Regions from separate parts of the Homo sapiens genome. Here regions 2 and 3 are each linked to region 1. Evidence: fine-mapped QTL for protein levels in blood plasma. Region 1 holds a variant in brackets. A gene starts in each other region. All regions are shown on their forward strands.

Region 1 (7,632 bases):
GCAGCTAAAGCCGCATTCTTTTCATTAAAGGCCAGGGTTTGATCTAACAGTAGCACGACATCTCTGCAAGCGAGGTCAAAGGTTTGCCCTAGACCCTGTAGGACATCTATGTACCTATCAGGATCATCTTTAAAAAGAGATAGATACTTAATCTTGTGTTATCAGTGGCGTTATGTCTGAAAAACAATTTGCTTTAAAAAGTCCATTATGTATTACCCGCATAAGATAGGTTTTAGACTGAGATTAATAATTGTTCCATAACAACCTGTATTTAGTAAAGATGATCAAAAGGTGTTTTTGTGCCATTTTTTTCTTTCTCTAGTTCGATTGAATAATTCATGGGCTTTTTTCTAATTCTCCTTAGTCCTTCTAGAACACAGGTCAACAGATGTTTATGACTTCAGTCCCCATGATCTGAGTCAAGGTCCCAGTGGGGATCCATACTGGGGATGGCTTGCTGACCAGTCGGGAATTTGTCCCTTTCTTCGGCTGTCATTCTGTCATTTACTTGACTAAGATACCAGGTATCTCCAAACTCTTGGGCTGCAGCTAAAGCCGCATTCTTTTCATTAAACGCCAGGGTTTGATCTAACAGTAGCATGACATCTCTCCAAGTGAGGTCAAAGGTTTGCCTAGACCCTGTAGGACATCTGTGTACCTATCAGGATCATCTGAAAACTTCCCCAGGTCTGCCTTGATCTGCTTTAAATCAGAGAGGGAGAAGGGGACATGTACCCGGGTTGGGCCAAATACCCCTCCCGCTATAGCTTGAAGGGGACATAACCAATAGCCCGGGGTTTTTTGTGGTCCTTTGGAGATTTCCTTGCTTGTTTCCTTCTGGCCAGGGGAGATTAGAGGAGGATTATCATTAATAGGAAGGGGAGCTATAGGGAGGCTAGGATATGGGGATAAGCTGAGAGATCCTCCTGTGGGATATAAATTGTAAGCTTTGCATAGTTGTGTATTCTCCCTCAATGAAAATAAAGCTTGGACATGAGGTATTTCACTCCATTTGCCTTCCCTCTTACAGAAAAGATCAAGCTGCAGGATAGTATTGTAATTTGTACTTCCCTCAGGTGGCCATTTTTCCCCATCAGAGAGAGAATATTGGGGCCAAGCCGTAGTGCAGAAAAAAATGAGCCGCCTCTTTTTCAGGGTTTGTGGGTCAAATTGGTCCCAATGGCTTAGGATGCATTTCAAGGGTGAGCCTGTTGATGCCTGAGTGTTTCCCATCTGAAAGACAAAACTGCCGCGTTTTGGTTTATTTTGTTTCTCCCCCTGCCCAAGAACCTACAACGGTCCCTGGACCCTGCTGATCAGAATAGTTGCGCTCACCAACACAGCAGCAGAAACAACCCCTGCCCAAGAACCCGCAACAGTCCCTGGACCCTGCTGATCGGAATAGTTGCGCTCACCAACGCAGCAGCAGAAACACTAGTTTTCCTCCCAGACCACATGGAGGACCAAGGAAAGTCAGATTTAGCGGTCCTTACCGACGCATTCTCGAAAACCTGCACCCTTGCCTGTCCTCCTAGGCCACAAGGGGGACCAACTGAGAAAAATCGATTTAGTGGCCCTTACCGACGCATTCTCGAAAAGCTGTTAGAGTCCTAAGCATTCTCCTGTTAGTACTGGGACTTTACCCCTGTCCTATAAAGATGTTATGCCCCAAAAATGAAGTGGAGGGCCATACCCTGAGGGAGGGAAGGGATCTCCAGGTTTGGAAGAGTGACACCTTTTGTCCTCACTTATATGAATAGGAAGGATATAATTTCTGAGGCTCCCCATATCCTAGCTTCAGGAATAGCTTTTGTTAGGCCTGTTAGTCTGAGGAGGGATCCTAAAATTCCAGGTAGTCCCCACTACGATGGGGCTTTGGGCAAAAATTATGTCTTTCTGATTGGTGAGCCCGGGTGCCTAAAGAAGGTAACAGAGTCCTGGAGTTTATACTAGAAATCATTCTTATAGGAGAAACTAGAAAAGCACCAGAGACGGTAGCAATTTTTAGAAGCGGGACTAACCTCAGAGAAGAGAGGCAAGAGGAAGTTTGTCTGACAGGCATTAGGACCCAGGGGGCAAGGGTCAGGATAGATAGGATAGATGGGCGAGTCTCGCTTGGGCGACATGCTTTTGAGAGTTCTGCTCATGGCCGCAGGGTCAACCAACTTGTTGTCGGGACCCCAGAGCTGCATGGCTTTCCTCTCTGTCGACCCTCGGCTCAGCCCAGAAGTACTGGAAAAGCAGAAGCTGGTTCTAGGGAAAACAATGGTCCCAACTCCGAAGAGTCGGGGGTTGTTATAGAGCCCTTTCCCAGAAAACCTGACACCCGTGTCTTTAGTCCGGTGGCCACGCTAGTCGCTTTTAACTGGCCAACAGGTGCCCGGTATTTAGCCCCCAAATTCTAAGGAAAGATAGGACAGAATAGCAAGCTAAAGGGGTCCGATGGTACTCACTGCTTGGCAATAGGTGATTGTCTCACCGCTCAGCAATAGGCGATGGTCTTACTGCTTGGTGATTGGCGAAGGTCCCATCTGGGTCGCCAAAATGTGTCTGGAATTGGTGGGTTCTTGGTCTCACTGACGTCAAGAATGAAGCCGCGGACCCTCGCCGTGACTGTTACAGTTCTTAAAGGCGGCATGTCCGGAGTTTGTTCCTTCTGATGTTCAGATGTGTTCGGAGTTTCTTCCTTCTGGTGGGTTCATGGTCTCGCTGGCTCGGGAGTGAAGCTGCAGACCTTTGCGGTGAGTGTTACAGCTCTTAAAGGCAGTGTGGACCCAAAGAGTGAGCAGTAGCAAGATTTATTGCAAAGAGCGAAAGAACAAAGCTTCCACAGTGTGGAAGGGGACCCGAGCAGGTTGCCACTGCTGGCTCAGGCAGCCTGCTTTTATTCTCTTATAAGTCCCCACCTACATCCTGCTGATTAGTAGAGCCAAGTGGTCTGTTTTGACAGGGCACTGATTGGTGCACCTACAATCCCTGAGCTAGACACAAAGGTTCTCCACATCCCCACCAGATTAGCTAGATACAGAGTGTCCACACAAAGGTTCTCCAAGGCCCCACCAGAGTAGCTAGATGCAGAGTGTCGATTGGTGCATTCGCAAACTCTGAGCTAGACACGGTGCTGATTGGTGTGTTTACAAACCTTGAGCTAGATACAGAGTGCCGATTGGTGTATTTACAATCCCTGAGCTAGACATGAAGGTTCTCCAAGGCCCACCAGAGTAGCTAGATACAGAGTGTCGATTGGTGCATTCACAGACCCTGAGCTAGACACAGGGTGCTGACTGGTGTATTTACAATCCCTGAGCAAGACATAAAGGTTCTCCACATCTCCACCAGACTCAGGAGCCCAGCTGGCTTCACCCAATGGATCCCGCACCTGGGCTGCAGGTGGAGCTGCCTGCCAGTCCCACACGGTGCGCCGGCACTCCTCAGCCCTTGGGTGGTCGATGGGACTGGGCGCCGTGGAGCAGGGGGCCGCGCTAATCTGGGAGGCTCGGGCCGCACAGGAGCCCACGGAGGGGGTGGGAGGCTCAGGCATGGCGGGCTGCTGGTCCCGAGCCCTGCCCCGCGGGAGGGCGGCTAAGGCCCGGCGAGAAATCAGCACAGCACCGGTGGGCTGGCACTGCTGGGGGACCCAGTACACCCTCCGCAACCACTGGCCCGGGTGCTAAGCCCCTCACTGCCCGGGGCCGGCAGGGCCGGCCGGCTGCTCCAAGTGTGGGGCCTGCCAAGCCCATGCCCACCGGGAACTCCAGCTGGCCCGCAAGCGCCGCGCGCAGCCTCGGTTCCCGCTGGGGCCTCTCCCTCCACACGTCCCTGCAAGCTGAGGGAGCCGGCTCTGGCCTTGGCCAGCCCAGAAAGGGGCTCCCACAGTGCAGCGGTGGGCTGAAGGGCTCCTCAAGTGCCGCCAGAGTGGGAGCCCAGGCAGAGGAGGCGCCAAGAGCGAGCGAGGGCTGTGAGGACTGCCGGCACGCTGTCACCTCTCAATAGGTTTCAGACTGAGATTAATAATTGTTCCATAACAACCTGTATTTAGTAAAGATGATCAAAAGGTGCTTTTGTGCCATTTTTTTCTTTCTCTAGTTTGAGTAAAAGTTTCAGCAAGTGAGCAGCAAAATTTAGATAAACTAATAAATGAATAATTTTTACAATGGAATGCCCATAAGCACCTCAAAGTCAGCACATCCAAAATGGATTTTTTTTTGTCTTTTTTTTGAGACAGAGTCTAACTCAGTTGCTCAGGCTGGAGTGCAGTGGCGCGATCTCGGCTCACTGCAACCTCCACCTCAAGCAATTCTGGTGCCTCAGCCTCCTGAGTAGCTGGGACTACTGGCATGAGCCGCCATGCCTGGTTAATTGTGTGTGTGTGTGTGTGTGTGTGTGTGTGTGTGTGTGTGTGTGTGTATTTTCAGTAGAGATGGGGTTTCATCATGTTGCCCAGGCTGGTCTGGAACTCCTGCCCTCAAGTGATCTGTCCCCACCATGGCCTCCTTAAGTCCTGGGATTACAGGTGTAAGCCACCGTGCCCAGTACCCAAGTGGATTTCATAATTTATC[T/C]CCAAATCTATTTCTTCTCCTCTGTGCCTAGAAAAGTCAATGGCACCATTAACCTCAAACTTAACCAGGTTAGAATTTTTGTGTCTCCTCCACCTTTTCTCTAGCTGCCAATCCCAGTGACCCATCAGTTTTATTCATGAGGCTATTCCCGATCTCATGCTATACACCAGGCCTTCATTATCACTTGCTTCAACCACAGGTGATCCTCAGTGATATAGTCTGATTTTAAATTTACATTTTCAAACATTGTAGTTTACTCTTTCAAATCATTTTTTTTTTCATATGCCAAGTTGGGACTTGAAAGTCTTTTTTTTTTGACAGAGTCTCACTCTGTCCCCCAGGCTGGAGTGCAGTGACACAATCTCGGCTCACTGCAACCTTCACCTTCACCTCCTGGGTTCAAGCGATTCTCCCGCCTCAGCCTCCCAAGTAGCTGGGAGTACAGGCACCCACCACCCCATCAGGCTAATTTTTGTACTTTTAGTAGAGGCGGGGTTTCACCGTATTGATCAGGCTGGTTTCGAACTCCTGACCTCAAATAATCCACCCACCTTGGCCTCCCAAATGCTGGGATTATAGGAGTGAGCCATGGCGCCTGACCTTAAAAGTCTTATATCACTTTTTCACATGACAAGTTTAGATTTCATAATCAGCTGATGAATAAATACTTTCAGTCCATGCACAGTCTGTGCCATCTGATACCTCTGTTTCAGCAAGGTAATCACTTCTATCTATAAAGCATTGTTTGTGCAATATTTTAATAGGATTAATAGGCTCAAATGAACCACAGATCTGTCAACTGAACTTGCAGTCTGGCCACTCTTGTAACAAATATTCATTTCATTAAGCACCTTTAATATGACAAATGATGTGCTAAGTACCAAGTACTTTGTCATAGTGACAAAGCAGACACTCTTACCCTCATGGAATTTGTACTATATATTGTGGGTAAAAAGGGATCCAATAAATAAACTCCCCAAAAATATATGGCTGGTGTTATTTATCTTGATAGGTGTTAGTACATAGTCTTAATAATTATCAATAATATATTACTATATGTATTTAACATATTGTACCGTAGGCCCAATATCTTTCAGTGCAAAAATACTCAGCTGAAATACGTTTTTCATTTCAAATACTTATCTATATTGATTACAACATTCTAATTTAGTGTTTTACTTTCCATTTCCAAATATTCTTTCATCAATATTATCTGTTCTTCTTTTCATCATAAATGTATTTATTTCATCTATTAGTATTTTCTATAATCTATATTTTAAGTCATTTCAGCTCTTTTTATATTTCTTAAACCTTTTAAAAGCATAATTGTATGCTAAAAGTGGGTGAGGTTTTAAAACTAAGTGCCTAAGACATAATATAAATATTTTATTGTTCTCTATTACATTAAAAAGTGGTAACCTATTTAATTCACATGCTATGGTCAAATTTTAATTTCAATAATATGACACAAATAAATACTCAGAAATGCTGACAAATCTTATCACCTGTGAAACTCAAATGTTTTCAGGGGTCATGAAGATAGCATACTTGTCTCATCCAATGACTTTCAAATTCATCCTTCTTTAAAATGTTGTGCTGGACTTTGGAGACACAAATGTGGCCTTCCAGAGTGACAGGCCTTATAACAATCCTTGTAACAATTACTACTTTATTTTTACCTGTTAATATTTATATATTAATAAACCCAACTGAACCTAAGAGAATATCTAAGACAAGTACATTTGTGTATGTGTGTGCCTTCATGTATGTGATTTTTATGTACATGATGAACTGTCTTAATTATAAAGAAAAGGAAAAAAACATGATGCTATGAGAAAAAAATGAACATTCAACTGAGCAGAGCAGAAGATATTTTTATATTTCCTGATACAAAAATCTAACTTCAGTTCCGGTCTGGCAGAGAGCGCGGAGAGACGCAGAACGCAGCCAGCTCCTCCAGGGCCCTCCAGGCCCTCCGGACCCGGGCCGGCGGGTGAACTGGGGGGCCCCGGGACAGGCCGAGGCCTCTGCCCTGCAGATACCGGAGGCCTCTGCTGTGGCTGCCCACTGGCTGTGCCCAGGCCTTGAAGCCGCAGCGAACCTCTCTTTCCCACCCCACCTGGATGACTGATGGCGGCGGCTGCGTCTCCCCGACGGGACCCCGCCGGCCGCCGCGTCTCCCGACCCAAGCCTGCCGGGCCTCGACGAAACCCCCGCAGAGTCGCTGGGACGCAGCGCCTTTGGGCGGCGCCGGGCGTGGTGGGCCGGAAAGTATGGCGGCCGCTTGAACGCCGCGCGGCGGAGGCCATTAAGGCGTGGAGGGCCCGGGAAGGCGGCCTAGGGACGCAAGCAGGCTCGGCCACCTCTTTAGGCCACGGAGCCGCGCAGATCCGGTTCCCGGGTGACCACTCTGTCGCCATTGGGCGAGACCGACCTAGTCCTGACGACAACGGACAAAGGCCTTCAGGGGCCTGGAAGGTGAGTGAAGTCCCGAAAGACGACGGGTGGAACGGTTAGCGGCTATCGGGCGGTTGGTCTTTGTTCTACCAGACTTTGCTGTCAGAAGAGAGAAATGGTAGAATGACAGGCCACGTTTGGCCCGTTGGAAATGCCCACCACCCTCTGGGAAGATTTACTGGCCGTTTATGTAAGGCCTGTGTATATAATATGAAAAAGCTGCTCTCAACTTCACCCCAACCTTTTAATAGAAAACATTTGTCACATCTAGCCCTTCTAGATGGAAAGAGGTTGCCGACATATGATAAAATAGAAAGTCACACATCTTGTAAATTCTCATTTGTTTAAAAGAAATCATAGAAAACACATGTCTTCTGGAGATGACTTTTAGAAATGGAGTTGTTAAGACGGCCTCTGGAAGCGATACGTCCACGTTTGTTAAGTGGGTTAGATGACATGGAGGTGGAAGACCTGAGAAGGAAGAGAAGAAGGTTCTGTGCTAGACTGGTCATATTTAGAAGACATTTTCATATTCTATCCATTGTTTTGTGTGCATTTTATTCTTCACTACTGTGTATATAGTTGACAATGCTAAGCTTTTTTGAAATGTCTATTC
Region 2 (7,632 bases), not on the chromosome of region 1:
CTAATAAGTGGTAGACTCAGAATTAAAACTCATGTTCACCACCCTCCAAAAATCTGTTATTTCCACTTCAAAAGAACTGTTAACTCATCTGAAGACAAGGCAGGTGACAAGGTTGCTTACCCATGCCATTCGGGGTTAAATATATATAGGCTGTGTGCAGTGGCTCACGCCTGTAATCTCAACATTTTAGGAGGCCAAGACAGAAGAATCGCTTGAGGCCAGGAATTCAAAAACAGCCTGGGCAACACAGCGAGACCCTGTCTCTACAAAAATTAAAATTACAAAATTAGCTGGGCCTGGTGGTGCGCCCCTGTAGTCCCAACTACTCAGGAGGCTTTAGTGAGAGTATTACTTAAGCCCAGGAGTTCAAGGTTGCAGTGAGCTATGATTATGCCACTGCACTCCGGCCTGAACCACAGTGTGAGACCCCATCTGAAAAATAATAATAATAATAATACAGTATGGTTTAATATATTAAAGAAACTGATCTCTCGCATGGTTCAAAAAGGTCTCTGAAAACAATTCCAGAGGTGGATTTTCAAAACTGCCTTGGACAACAGCCAAATCACTTAGGCACGCCATCCTCAACTCCCACCACCTACACCTGCACACATCACTCTAAAGGAGAACATTCATTGGTGGATCAAGTTCCCACATGTCAGTTATTTTAAAATCCATTTTGTTACCTTTCAGTTTCACTTAATTAGCCTCTTCTCCTGCCAATGAAACACACCAGGGCTCACAGTTGGCCTCAGTAGAGAAGTAATAGCTGGCCTTCAGAAAACAGCAGGGAAGGGGAAGTAAGTGGGAATCAAAGTACTAGGCAACTTTTCATTCCTGGACTGCCGCATCCCTACTAACATTTCCATCACCTGTAAAATGGGAGCAGAACGTCTCTTCTATTGCCAATTTCATTAAAACAGCACATGTATTCATGAGCAGATTAAATTCACTAAACAAATGAAAGAAAGGGGAAATAAATGTGGTGTGGTAACACCATCTTAAAAACCCGAGAGCCATGTTCTCAAAACCACAGACCAAGTTCTGACCCATGTTATACAAATATCAATCCCAATATCGTTACACTCTGGCTCCCATCAAAATCCTACCCAATCCCCAAATCTGGCTATACTTTTATCAGAAAAGAAAAAAACTTGGGTGGGGTGAGAGCAGAAAAGACACACACACACAACAAAATATCTTTCACAATGTCAAAAAAAAACCTGTTTATATGCCAGGCGAGGTGGCTCATGCCTGTAATCCCAGCACTTTGGGAGGCCGAGGTAGACAGATCACCTGAGGTCAGGAGTTCGAGACCAGCCTGATCAACATGGAGAAACCCTGTCTCTATTAAAAATAGAAAATTAGCCGGGCACGATGGCGCATGCCTGTAATCCCTGCTAATCGGGAAGGTGAGGCAGGAGAATCGCTTGAACCTGGGAGGCGGAGGTTGCTGTGAGTCGAGATGGCACCATTGCACTCCAGCCTGAGAAACAAGAGCGAAACTCCGCCTCAAAAAAAAAAAAAAAAAAAAAAAACTGTTTATAAACACATCACTTTCTTCTCTTAGCAAATATGTAAGTTTCATTCTCCTCCTGTCTACTTAGTTTGGGTTAACTTAACCCCCGCCCCATCTCTCAGATCATGTTTTTATTTAGGTTTATTGAGGTGGGAAAGCCAACTGAACTTTAAACGAAGCCAGGCATTTAAGAATATTAGAAAACTGATCTTACATATATAGGTAGTCAAATATTTTTAAAAGACATCAAATGGCATTCTAATTCCTCCGGTGCAAAGAAAGCCCCAGCCTCACACGTGTTAGCATTTCCTGATTCCTGGCTTTTCCCACTCAGAGCCCCATTCCAGGGGCTCATATGTCAAGTCATTCTCTCCTGACTTCTGAAGCAGGGATTTTCAAAGCCAGGATTCCGGGACCACCTGAATGAGAACCCCCTGGGGTACAGCTGCCCACGCACCATCTTATCGGAAATCCCAGGGAATGGAGCCCAAGGCTTATGCACAAAGCCCCTAGACGATCCGAGAGATAACACTAACCAGTCTGTAACCTCTAAAGGCAAATTTTCCAGGACAAAGAAAAACAAGCAATAAGAGAGTGACAATAATTCCACATGGGAAGAGACACACGGGTCTCGGAGATCAACACCAAACCACCCCTTCTTCGGACAGATACGGAAACTTAGGCTGGGAGAATGAAACAGGCAAGGGCACTAAAAACAGGTGCGGAGCCAAAGCCAATCTCAAATTTCCACGGCCCCATCTCCTGCCAATAAAGAGGTGAATGGAGACATTCTGAGTGGGAAAGATAAGAAAGGTAGGCCTTCGGCAGGGAGCCCCGGGCCCACTTGGACGTCCCGCTTTGGAGACACTAGTGAGGATGTGTGGGTCCCCAGAACACTGCTGGGAAGGCGCCGAGGCCGCCGGCAGGAGGAGGCCCAGGAAGCGCCCTGAGCCCCCCGCCCAGCTCCAGGGCCGGGCGGCCCTCACCGCCCCTACCTTCGGCCTCCGGCAGCCGAGTGGCAGACACAACTCCCACAATTCCAGGCGGCCGCGGCGGCGACCAGCTCCCCCTGCGCAAACGCGGCGGCGACCGTCTGAGCCGGTGAGCTGGCAGCTGTCACGCCGCTCGCGGCCTCGCCCAATCGCGGGCCGCCAGACCAGCGCGCGGCGCCCCCCGCCCCGCACCGAGGTGGGAGCCCCGCCCCTAGCCCCGCCCTCTGCAGACTCTTGCACGAGCTGCCCCCGTGCCCCTCCCCTTGGGGGGAGGGAGGGCTGAAGAGATAGCTTCACGCCTGCTTTTGCTTCCAGGCTGGAACTGCGAAGTTTCCTGTCTGATTTTCCAACAATGTAATTTCTTTCTAGCGGAAGGACCCTCAGAAAGCAATCAGAGGGGTGCGGAGTAAAAATAAATCAAGTTCTTGTGACTCAGTTTGGGACAGAAGCCGAGAGTCTCCAGCAATAAAATTTCTCGCAAATTCATGCAAAATAGGACACCTTTAAGCCACTCACTTTATATACTTGTGTAGATTTTTTACAAGGACCAGTTATTTTAAAAATAGCATCAGGTGGCCGGGCGCGGTGGCTCACACCTGTAATCCCAGCACTTTGGGAGGCCCAGGCAGGCAGATCACTTGAGGCCAGGAGTTCAAGACCAGCCTGACCAACATGGTGAAACCCCCGTCTCTACTAAATATACAAAAATTAGCCAGGCGTGGTGGCGAGCGCCTGTAATCCCAGCTACTTGGGAGGCTGAGGCAGGAGAATCGCTTGAACCCACCAGGCAGAGGTTGCAGTGAGCTAAAATCGTGCCACTACACTCCAGCCTGGGTGACAGAGTGAAACTCTGTCTCAAAATCTAATAAAATAAAATAAAGGTCACTTGCGATTCTGATTTTTTTTTAAGACAGAATCTGTGTCCCCCAGGCTGGAGTGCAGTGGCAGGATCTTGGCTTATCACAGCCTTGACCTCCCAGGCTCAAGGGATCCTCCCCCTCAGCCTCCATCCAGTAGCTGGGACCACAGGCGCGTGCCACCGTTGCCAGGCTAATTTTTTTTTTTTTTTTTTTTTTACAGACAGGGTCTCGCTATGTTGCCCAGGCTGGTGTCAACGCAGTTGTAATTCTGCTGTACCAGTGAATATCATGCTTTCTGTACCAGGTGCTGCATATATATTTTATTTACTTATAACGTCCTCTGAGCAGAATGGTCATCCCCTTTTTATAAATGGAGAAGCTGACGCTCAAAGAGGCTAAAGGAGTTATACAAAGTCATACAGTCAGGAAGTGGTAGAACTGGGAGTTAAAGCTAGATTTAAGTGTCTCCAATGTCCTGTTCTCTTTCCACTATTCCACTTTTAGACCTTCCCCTTGCCTAGACATGCTTAACCTGATGAATAAAAATGACTGCCCCCTCCTGCCCTCAGATCCCCCACATAGTGATTCCTGGTCATTCATGAGTGGAGAAAACAGTAATCCAGACAGTTACCTCCCCAAATGGCAAGTATTTCCCAATAGCAAACAACCTATTTCTGGACTTCCCTTCCCTTTTCCATGTACTCTATGAGCTTCTAGCAGACAATTTACCTTCTTGATTATGTTTACTTCAAGCAGATGGGAAACTGACTTCATAGCCACTGAGCAAACCTTGGTTACTAGTATGGGAAGGGAGAACAAGCCCCTGGGCAGTAGTTCAGTGAATAGTGCCAGTTTATGAGAAAGGTCTAGATAAAACACCTAGGGCCTGATTTGGAAAGAGAACAGCTCACTTTTCCCCTGGAACACCCAGGAGACCAGTGAGAAGAACTGGGCCTAAGAATAATTCTAGCTTATGTCACTGCCTAGTACCATAAGTACAGATAATAAATATTCAACAAATATTTCATGAGTGATAAATTAGAGAATGAACATATAAATTATAATAAGACTGGCACGAGTTATAAAAAAGATGTTAATAAAGTGCTACAAGAGTAAGAGCCTTAAAAATAGAATAAGCTCAAATCTTATAATAGCATGAATAAATGAATGCTTGGGCCAAGAGAAGAGTCCAGCTGAACACAGCTGCCAGCGCTCAAAGCGGGGCCTTTCTCCTTGGGACGGATCTAACCAGCTCAGGTATGTGGTAGGAAAGGGATAGTCTGTCTCCCACTGCCACCCCAGGCCTGGTCTCCAAACCTTGAAAAGCTCTGCCATGGTCTGAATGTTGGTGTCTCCCCTAAATTCATACATTGGAACCTCATATCCAATGTGATAGTATTAAAAGGTGGGCAGGTTGGGCCAGGCATGGTGGCTTCCGCCTGTAATCCCAGCACTTTGGTAGGCCGAGGCAGGCGGATCACAAGGTCAAGAGATTGAGACCATCCTAGCCAACATGGTGAAACCCCATCTCTACTAAAAATACAAAAATTAGCTGGGTTTGGTGGTGTGCACCTGTAGTCCCAGCTACTCAGGAGGCTGAGGCAGGACAATCGCTTGAACCTGGGAGGTGGAGGTTGCAGTGAGCCAATATCGCACCACTGCACTCCAGCCTGGCGACAGAGCAAGACTCCATCTCAAAAAAATAAAATAAAATAAAAATGGTCAGGTTGAAGGGAGCTGCCTTGCCCCTTCTGCCGTGGAAGGACACAGTGATCTCCCCTTCCACCATGTGAAGCAAGGCAGCAAGGCACCATCTTTGAAATAGAGAGCAAGCACTCACCAGCCCCTAAATCTGTTGGCACCTTGATCTTGGATTTCCTGGTCTGTAGAACAGTGAGCAGTAAATTTCTGTTTGTAAATTACCCAGCCTAAGGTGTTTGTTATAGTAGTCCCAACAGACAAAGACATACCCTGACAGAACTACCTTCTCAGAGGAACTTGCTCTGAACTTGCTCTGAAATCAAGCCTCTTGAGTTGCTGAAGCCAGTGTGCAAGGTTGAACCTAAGCAGACAGCCTCTACTTACACGGCCTTAAGCAAGGAGGCCCACTGTAAAGGTGAGAAGTTTGGGTGCAAGTCCAGTGATCACAGTGGGTGCTGGAATTTTGGTAGTCTCCTCTCTTTGTTTCCTTATATAAGTCTTGGAATTGAGCAAAAGTAAGTTTAAAATTTCCTTTTAGGCTGGGCGCAGTGGCTCACGCCTGTAATCTCAGCACTTTGGGACGCTGAGGCAGGCGGATCACCTGAGGTCAGGAGTTGAAGACCAGCCTGGTCAACATGGCAAAACCCCGTCTCTACTAAAAAATACAAAAATTAGCAAACCATGGTGGTGGGCGCCTGTAATCCCAGCTACTCAGGAGCCTGAGGCAGGGAGAATTGCTTGAACCTGGGAGGTGGATGTTGTAGTGAGCCAAGATCACGCCACTACACTCCAACCTGGGCGACAGAGCAAGACTCTATCTCAAAAAAAAAAAAAATCCTTTTAAATAAGTAAACAACAGGCTAAAAACCACCTCTCTCTTGCAGTTCTGTTGGGGAGTTTCTAGAATCCCTCTTCCACTCCCCAGAAGAGCAAAGGAAGGCTTGGAAGGGTAGAGAGACTGAGGAATCACCTTCAACCCGGCCACCATCAATCAAATCAAAGGAAACCACAGCACCTACCCCCAGAGCCCTGGCTAGGCGGAGATTTATAATCAATTTGGCCTTCCTCAACAAGCAGAATATGTTGAGTAGATCATTTCTCCTCTGATCAGCCTTTCTCAATTAATCTCCCACAAGCCTCACACCCTGTTGTGTGAAAGTATTCCTGGCTTCAGGAGTTGGCTCCCTGCTCTCTCTGGATGGGCCTCAAATGTTGAGTGGGGAGCAGGAGCCCTCACTTTGTCTCACCACTGTATTGATCTGCCTCCTCCCCTCGGCCCCTTCCTCTTTGCCCACCCAGCTTTCACCACACAACTCAGATCCTGCTGCCAGGAGTCCCTTCTGGACTGCAGACATTTTATTCACTTGAACATGAGCACCAAGCTACATGCCAGCCATTGGCTGTGGGGGTACAACTGTGAAACAGTCCTACTGGTTCTTACCCTCGAAGAGCTCAGGGTCAAATGAGAGACACAGAAATGTAAACAGATCAAAACAGCCTGGCAAGCACCATTTAACAGAAATATTAACGGGCTAGGTGCAGTGGCTCACGCCTATAATCCTAGCACTTTGGGAGCCAAGGCAGGCGGATCACTTGAGCTCAGGAGTTCGAGACCAGCCTGGGCAACATGACAAAACCCATCTCTACCAAAAATAAAATAAAAAAATAAAATAATTAGCTGGGCATGGTGGCACATGCCTGTGGTCCCAGCTACTTGGGAGGCTGAAGTGGGAGGATCACTTGAGCCTGGGAGGTGGTTTCAGTGAGCTAAGATTGCACCACTGCACTCCAGAGGTTCACACTGCTGTCTTTTCAGATCCCTTTTGTGAGTAAAGCCCTTTCACATTTATCACCTTGTTTGTTCCAGACACCTCTGTGAGGTAGGTGGGGCAGATTTATTTTGCAGATGAACAAAAACTCTTCCCACTGAACTCTTCAGAGCTGTGTTGTCCAATATGGTAGCCAATTGCCGCATGTTGTTTAGATTTAATTAAAATTAAATAAAAGTTAAAATACAGTTTCTTATTTACACTAGCCACATTTCAAATGCTCAGTCCACTATACTGGACAACAAAAATGATGGAACATTTCTATGAAAAAGCTCTATTGTGGCCGGGCACGGTGGCTAACGCCTGTAATCCCAGCACTTTGGGAGGCCGAGGCAGGCAGATCACCTGAGGTCGGGAGTTTGAGACCAGCCTGACCAACATGGAGAAACCCCCTGTCTACTAAAAATACAAAAATTAGCTGGGCATGGTGGCGCATGCCTGTAATCCCAGCTACTCGGGAGGCTGAGGCAGGAGAATCACTTGAACCTGGGAAGCAGAGGTTGCGGCAAGCCGAGATCACGCTGTTGCACTCCAACCTGGGCAACAAGAGCGAAACTCCATCTCAGAAAAAAAAAAAAGCTCTATTGTCTAACAGTGCTTGAGAGGTCCTGAGAGGCAGTGCTACGGCAGGGGTGTGAAGCCAGAGCACTCAGCATTCCCAGAAAAGCTAAGTCAAGGGGCCAACATGGAAGAAGCAGGAAGCTAAGGGGCACTCCAGGGGAAATCAGGAG
Region 3 (7,632 bases), not on the chromosome of region 1:
CATTGAAAAATGAGAATACTTGTGAGTACACTCCTTTTCAGAGGTGTATTCGGGATTTCAGGAGTCGGGGAGGCAAGTTGAAGAGCTTCCAACTTTATGCAACTTTCAGGAAAGAAGGCTGCGGACCGGTATTAGCAAATGGAAATCCGGGGGGCGGTCGTGGGCAGGAAGTATCGGCCACACAGGACCTAGTGAGGCCGAGGACCCTGCTCCCGACCTCGGTGGCAGCACTCCCCTCCCCGCCCGGCTCCCTGGCGTGCCGCTGCTCTTCGGAGGCTGGCAGCCTCGCCCTCAACCACCGCCCTCGGGAAAGTCCTCGACTGCCTATCAAAAAACATTTGGCCTGGGACGTCCGCTGGCTGCACTATCCCTTACAGAATCAGCAAGGGTGAAAAGCCAGGAAAGAGATGCAACCCAAAGGAGTAAGGCAGTGCCGGGAGCGGCAGAAGCGGAGCGGGGGCGAGGGCAAGGTAGCCGCGGCCACGCTGGCTGCGGCATGGAGACACGGGAGGAACGGGACCCGCGGGCGGCACGGGAAAGGGCTGCGGCTCAGACCACTGCGGCGGGACGGGCGGATCAGCGGGGATCTAAGTCTCCTGAGGCAAGGGCGCCCCGACCGCAGCGACTCCTGACACACCCAGGCCGCAGGACGAAGCGCTACCGCCTGGGGCTGCCAGCTCCCGCCTCCCGCCCGCAGAGCCCGGGCCCCACGTAGAGGATCCGGCGCCGCCGACACTCGCACACTCACCGCGCGCGCGCCACCCTTGCGCGGCAGCCCGCCGCCCTCGGCGCGACCTCCGCCCCACCCCGCGCGCCGCGGCGCCTGGGCTACGTCACGGGCGCGTGCGCTCTCCGCGCGCCGTCAGCGGCGCGGGTGGGGCATTGCCAGCTCGGCGTCCCGGTTCCCTTGGAGACAGAGCTGGCCAGGGCGGCCGCGGCTGGGCAACTACGACAGCGGAGCCCCTGGGGAAGCCAAGATGCCGTCGAAGGGAAAGGACAAAAAGAAAGGCAAGAGCAAAGGCAAAGACACGAAGTAAGGAGAAGCCACCCGAGAGTCCCCTCTCCCTGGGCCTGCCTGGGATTTCGGGTCTGGGGCTGGCAACCTGGCGCCCCCCGCGCCGGCCCACTCGGACCCTCTCCCCGGCTCTCCCGGCTTGTGAGGATTACAGCTCCCATGTCCATAGTCTGGCAGATCTCTACTATGTGTTCAGATTATCTTAAACGTGTAGAGGATGTATAAAGTAGTTCCTTGGGCCTTTTCAGAGATCTCTTTTGGTTCAAAGGGGACACCTAAAGTATTTTACCAAGTTGGATAATTATTGAGGTTTTCCCAAACTGATCAGAGCCACTGAGGTGGGTAATGTTCTAGCACTAACCCCTTACAGGCCTGGAGTTGCTGCTAGATTGCTACTAGCCCTATTGGGGGACCCCGGTGGTTTCTGGACACGTTGGAGTCATACGTGGTGTCCAGCAACAACACCATATATGGGAACACAGAGTTGGCACCAAACTTGAGATGTTTGTAAAGTAACTTAAGAGAGTAATTCATGCTCAATACAGAAAGTTTGGGAAACATGGGAAGTACCAAAAGAAAAAACAAAAATCACCTGTAGTCTCATTATCCAAAAATAAACACTACTATATTTTGGAGTATTCTTTTTTAATAAAACGATAGCCCAATGTACATACTTATATGTGGCTTTTTTCTTCCCATTTGTTAATGTAAGTATTCTTTTATGGTATTTTTTTTTTGTTTTTACATAACTGCACAGTTAGTCTAGCCCTTAAAGTGCCAAGGGCTTATCACATTCCTAGAACTCACTAACATATGTTTTCAGATTTTGACCATGCTTCTACAGTACACATTTGAACAATGAGGAACACTAAGGGTAAGAGACCTTATTCCTTGGATTTTCCATGACCCATTGTTTGAGAAACCTGGCTTTGTTTCTACAGTGAGTATCAGTGGTCCTATTAGAGTGTCTAATTTCTTGCATCAAGTACTTTTTTTTTTTTCTTGACACCAAGTTTTGCTCTTGTTGCCCAAGCCGGAGTGCAATGGCACGATCTCAGCTCACTGCAACCTCTGCCTTCTGGGTTCAACCAATTCTCCTGCCTCAGCCTCCCGAGTAGCTGTGATTACAGGCACCCGTCACCACGCCCAGCTAATTTTTTTATTTTTAGTGGAGACAGGGTTTCACCATGTTGGCCAGGCTGGTCTCGAACTCCTGACTTCAGGTGATCCACCCGCCTCGGCCTCCCAAAGTGCTGGGATGACAGCCGTGAGCCACCATGCCCTGTCGCATCAAGTACTTCGAGCCACTCAGACCTGATACCTGGATGGTCGTAGTGAGACAGTGTATCACTAGTGCCTAAATCATGCCAGAAAGGGACATCAACAGCTATAACAGGCTGAGGGGTTGGGAATGGAGCTGGCCTTAATTTGAAGAGAACAAAAGGTGAAAGTGGGACTTTGGTTCTCTCCACTGCAAACCCATTACCTCTGTGGAAGAGGACTGAGAACCAGAGGTAGGAAAGTGGATGTGGAGGGTGGCAGTATAGAAAGGTCCACATGTACATATGTGTGAAAATATTTAGAATTCAAATACAGGTGAAATATTCTTAAATATGTACATATTTATATATCATGGTACCTACCATATATAAGGGGGAGTGTTTTGTTAATGCTTATACAATAAATATTTAGAAAAATCTCTTCCTTTACCACTTTAATCTTTGAATCCATCCTTTTTCCTCTCCACCTCTATATAAATGATTATGGTTTCTCAGGCATCCTTAAAGCCCGGTGGGTGGGGCATCGTGGCTCATGCCCAGCACTTTGGGAGGCTGAGCAGGGGAAGATCACTTGAGCCCAGGAGTTCAAGACCAGCCTGAACAACATAGGAAGACCCTGTCTCTACAAAAATTTTTATTAAAAATTAGTTGGGCATGCTAACTCATGCCTGTAGTCACAGTTACTTAGGAGGCTGAGGTGGAGGATCGTTTGGGCCTGGGAGGTTGAGGCTGCAGTGAGCTGTGATGGTGCTACTGCACTACAGCCTGGATGACAGAGCAAGATCTTGTTTCAAAAAAAAAAAAAAAGTCCGGTGAACTGTGGCACCAGCTGATAAACTATTTAACGTATTTGCCCTAGTGACTTGACTTTTTGTCCAAGACCTAGCCCAAAACAAAACAAAACAAAAACACCATCCTGGCTAACACGGTGAAACCCCGTCTCTACTGAAAATACAAAAAATTAGCCGGGCCTGGTGGCGGGCTCCTGTAGTCCCAGCTACTCGGGAGGCTGAGGCAGGAGAATGGCATGAACCTGGGAGGCGGAGCTTGCAGTGAGCCGAGATCACGCCACTGCTCTTCAGCCTGGGTGAAAGAGTGAGACTCCGTCCCTCCCCCAGAAAAAAAAAAAACACACTCAAAAGTGGAGGGTAAAGTGGGTGGGAGATCACAGTTATACTACCAATGGGTATCATCATGCAGAAACTGAACAGAGATAATGGGTTTGCAGTGGAGAGAACCAAAGTCCAGCACTGAGTGAGTAGGAATAGAAAAGATAGTTTAACTACAGGAGAATCAGGCTAGGGCACTGGTTCACACCTGTAATCTCAGCACGTTGAGAGGCCAAGGTGGGAGGATACTTGAGCCCAGAAGTTGGAGACCAGCATAGGCAACATAGTGGGACCCCATCTCTATTAAAAAAAAAATAAATATGGGAGAATCAAATAAGTAAATGAAAAGGTATAAAAACTGCCCAAGCGCAGTGGCTCACACCTGTAATCTCAGCACTTTCGGAGGCTGAGGTAGGAGGATCACTTGAGCCCAGGAGTTCAAGACCAGCCTGGGCAACATGGCAAAAACTCATTTCTACAAAAAGTACAAAAATTAGCTGGGCATAGTTGCATGAACCTGTAGTCCCAGCCACTTGGGAGGCTGAGGTGGGTGGATGGCTTGAGCCCAAGAGGCAGAGGTTCTGGGGAGCCGAGATCGTGCTACTGCACTCCAGCCCGGTGACACAGCCAGGCCCAGTTTCAAAAAGAAAAAAAAAAGATATGAAAGCTTTCTGAAATGAGTTTGGCTTATCCTGTCTTTTCCCTTTGTTTTACCAGTCTTTTCGAGTTATGCTCCAGGACTCCCCTCCTCCAGGAAGAGGCACTTACTTAATTATCTTATGTGAATACAAGTGAATATGTATTTCTTTTTTTTTCTTTTTTCAAATGTGAATATGTATTTCTTATTAACTTATTCTTCCAACAATATTTGATCATGTGTGCCAGGCAATGCCAAGCAAAACAAATAAAAAAAGAGAAAAATTTAATAGTAATATAATAGAGTTATATACTATCTGCATATTAGAGTTGTATAAATAGTCATATACTGTCAATATCCTCTTCCCATGCAGGAAGTTAATAAAAACAGATGAATCTGTGGTGGACAGAGCCAAGGCCAATGCCTCCCTTTGGGAGGCCAGGTTGGAAGTCACAGAACTCTCTAGGATTAAGTATCGTGATACTTCACGGATACTGGCAAAAAGTAATGAGGACTTAAAGAAAAAGCAATGTAAAATGGAGAAAGACATAATGTCAGTATTAAGTTACCTGAAGAAGCAGGATCAGGAGAAAGATAATATGGTAGGTAGGTAGAAAGCCTCCTTGGCCTCATTAACTACCTCTATGGTGATGCTGATGTGGTTATGTATTTCAAAGATTTTTAATTCCTTGAAATCTTAACATATACTTAAGACATTTCAATTGACCTTAACTCTGTTTGAAGCAAGACACTTTTTCAGAATGGTTTTACTGTTATCGGCTCTCTTTTATTTTCAATCCTTGTTGCATGTTTTCTTGTCTGAAGCAAACAGAGATTGATGATCATAAGGGAACTTTATGATCTACTTTATTTTAAGGATAAGAGCATGGTATGTGATCTATATATTTTTTGATGCTGATTTTTAGTTTTAAAAATTTGTAAAGCAGTTCACTGATAATCCATGATAACTTTCTGAACCCAGCAAGTTGAATCTTTATTTTTATTTTTGGCCAGTTGAATCTTGTATCTTATTGTACCTTATTAAAGTGTTGAGAGTAAAGCTATCATTTTATATTTGGAAGAAAAAAGGAGGCCGGGTGTGGTGGCTCACGCCTGTAATCCCACCACTTTGGGAGGCTGAGGTGGGCAGATTGCCTGAGCCCAGGAGTTCGTGACCAGCCTGGGCAACACAGTGAAACCCCGTCTCTACTAAAATACAAAAAATTAACCGGGCATGGCTGCATGTGCCTATAGTCCCAGCTACTCGGGAGGCTGAGGCAGGAGAATTGCTTGAACCCGGGAGGCAGAGGTTGCAGCGAGCTGAGATCATACCATTACACTCCAGCCTGGCAGCCTGGGCGACAGAGCGAGAGACTCCATCTCAAAAAAAAAAAAAAAAAAGAAAAGAAAAGAAAAAGGGAAGGGAACTAACATTTTGGAGCCACTACAATGTACTATACTGGGTGCTTTACCTCTCTTGATTCTTTTACTAACCTCCTATTTAATTATTTTTATGACCCCATGTAGCTATAATATTGTTATTTCCATATTACAGATGAAGAAATTGACTTTCAGAAAGGACAGGTAACTTGCCCAAAGTCACACCCCTAGTGGGTGTTAAAAGTGGAAATTCAGGCTGGGTGTGGTAGCTCATGCCTATAATCCCAACACTTTGGGAGGAAGAGGCTGGAGGATAACTTAGCTTAGGAGTTCAGGACCAGCCTGGGGAACAAAGCAAGACCCAGTCTCTACACAAAGTAAAAAATAGCCAGGCGTGGCAGTGTGCACCTGTAGTCCCAGCTACTCGGGAGGCTAAGGCGGGAGGATCACTTAAGCCCAGGAAGTTGAAGCTGCAGTGAGCCATGGTCATGTCACGGCAGTCCAACCTGGACATCAGAGCAAAACTCTGTCTCATATTATTATTACTTTATTATTATTTTTGAGACAGGGTCTCTCTCTATTGCCTGGTCTAGAGTGCAGTGGTATGATCACGGCTCACCACAGGATCGACATCCGGGCTCAGATGATCCTCCTGCCTCAGTCTTCCAAGTAGCTGGGACTACAGGCACGCACCTCCATGCCTGGCTAATTTTTTGTATTTTTGGTAGAGACAGGGTTTCGCCATGTTGCCCAGGCTGGTCTTGAACTCCTGAGCTCAAGTGATCCACCCGCGTTGGCCTCCCAAAGTGCTGGGATTGCAAGCATGAGCCACCATGCCTGGCTGATTTTTTTGTAGTTTTTGTGGAGATGGGATTTCGCCATGTCGCCCAGGCTAGCCTCGAACTCCTGGGCTCAAGAAATCCTCCCAACTTAGCCTCCCAAAGTGCTGACATTACAGGCATGAGCAATAGCACCTGGTCCAGAAATTTCTATCTTTATTTTATTTTATTTTTTGTATTTTTAGTAGGGACGGGGTTTTGGCATGTTGTTGGCCAGGCTGATCTGGAACTCCTGGCCTTGAGTGATCCGCCCACCTCACCCTCCCAAAGTGTTGGGATTACATGCATGAGCCACAAAACCTGGCCAATTTTTATTTTTAAAATTACTCTTTTAATAGTAGGTATTATTAAATTGCCCTCTATAAAGTATTGTTCTAAAGTAAGTTTTTTTAGTCAACCATAGAAATAATTTCCAAATGTGTTACTTAGATGCTTTGTTTTGTGGCTTGTAATAGCTCATTGTTATTGGTCTACATCAGTATCACTTGTACTTCCTGATTCTCATCTGCCTCCTTATATCAAAGGGCAGCATCTGGCAGTAACAGGTGGGTAATTTTTATAATCATGGATTGCCATTAAACCAAAAGAAACAACCTTGGGAGGAAGAAACAAAGTAGACTAAATATATCCTCATTAACTAGCTTTCCCATAGTTTTGTTACTCATTTTGCTATATACTAGAAAAATGTTATGTTGTTAAACTTTGTTTAAACTGTTTATAGTCATGTTAATTATAGAAATAATAGAAATGAAATGTGTTTTGAAAACTATTTTATTATGAACAAAATTAGGAGATTCCCCTTAAGAGAATTTAATGCTGTACTGAATTAATCACAGAATAATCTCATTAAATGTCACACCAGTTTTATGTGATTTAGGATTGTCCCAGTTTATTTTTTAGAATATCTAGATTTTTTCCTAAGGTGGTCTAAAACATTGTACATAGTATCTCACTTGTGTCAACAACCATGTCAACAAGTCTTTAGTTTAAAAAGCTACTCAGATTCCCTTCTAAAACAAACCAGCATTCCTTGGAGAAATGGTTGATTTCAGGACTGGAACAGGGAATATAAAACATGAGGCTGGGCTGTTCATGGTGGCCCATGCCTGTAATCCCAGCACTTTGGGAGGCTGAGTGGCGGGGTGGGGGGGGTGCATCACATGAGGCCAGGAGTTTGAGACCATCCTGGCCAACAGAGTGAAACCCCATCTCTACTAGAAATACAAAGAATTAGCTAGGCATGGTGGTGCGTGTCTGCAGTCCCAGCTGCTTGGGAGGTTGAGGCACGAGAATTGCTTGAACCCAGGTGGCAGAGGTTGCAGTGAGCCAAGATTGTGCCACTGCAGTCAAGCCTGGGCAACAGAGTGAGACT

Alleles and levels. Positions count from the first base shown, and alleles are read on the strand shown. Strength reflects both the effect of a copy and how common the allele is.
For the plasma level of the protein whose gene starts at base 2,614 in region 2, C is the high allele of the variant in region 1 and T is the other (weak association).
For the plasma level of the protein whose gene starts at base 787 in region 3, T is the low allele of the variant in region 1 and C is the other (weak association).

The links. PIP is the chance, under the fine-mapping model, that this variant and not a neighbour inherited with it causes the effect. Protein levels are from antibody-based Olink assays in UK Biobank. Linkage for the fine-mapping came from a reference panel and not from the study's own genotypes, which makes the PIPs less certain.
Region 2: it holds the start of SIL1, and the variant in region 1 is fine-mapped to the plasma level of the SIL1 protein (UK Biobank, PIP above 0.99).
Region 3: it holds the start of ENTPD5, and the variant in region 1 is fine-mapped to the plasma level of the ENTPD5 protein (UK Biobank, PIP 0.92).

The regions. Positions count from the first base shown.
Region 1 is chr12:29,382,817-29,390,448 of GRCh38, forward strand. OVCH1-AS1 (OVCH1 antisense RNA 1) reads left to right here and starts at 6,478. Exons shown (of 2, transcript NR_073172.1): 1 at 6,478-7,037. The variant T/C (reference allele first, on the strand shown) is at 4,560.
Region 2 is chr5:139,195,755-139,203,386 of GRCh38, forward strand. SIL1 (SIL1 nucleotide exchange factor) reads right to left here and starts at 2,614. Exons shown (of 10, transcript NM_022464.5): 1 at 2,515-2,614. RefSeq lists a silencer at 2,290-2,819.
Region 3 is chr14:74,018,502-74,026,133 of GRCh38, forward strand. ENTPD5 (ectonucleoside triphosphate diphosphohydrolase 5 (inactive)) reads right to left here and starts at 787. Exons shown (of 16, transcript NM_001249.5): 1 at 749-787. It overlaps BBOF1 (basal body orientation factor 1), which reads left to right and starts at 848. Exons shown (of 12, transcript NM_025057.3): 1 at 848-1,033; 2 at 4,415-4,643. The coding sequence starts at 978. RefSeq lists silencers at 145-439, 355-424, 465-604, 615-684, 715-964 and enhancers at 3,245-3,539, 3,305-3,599.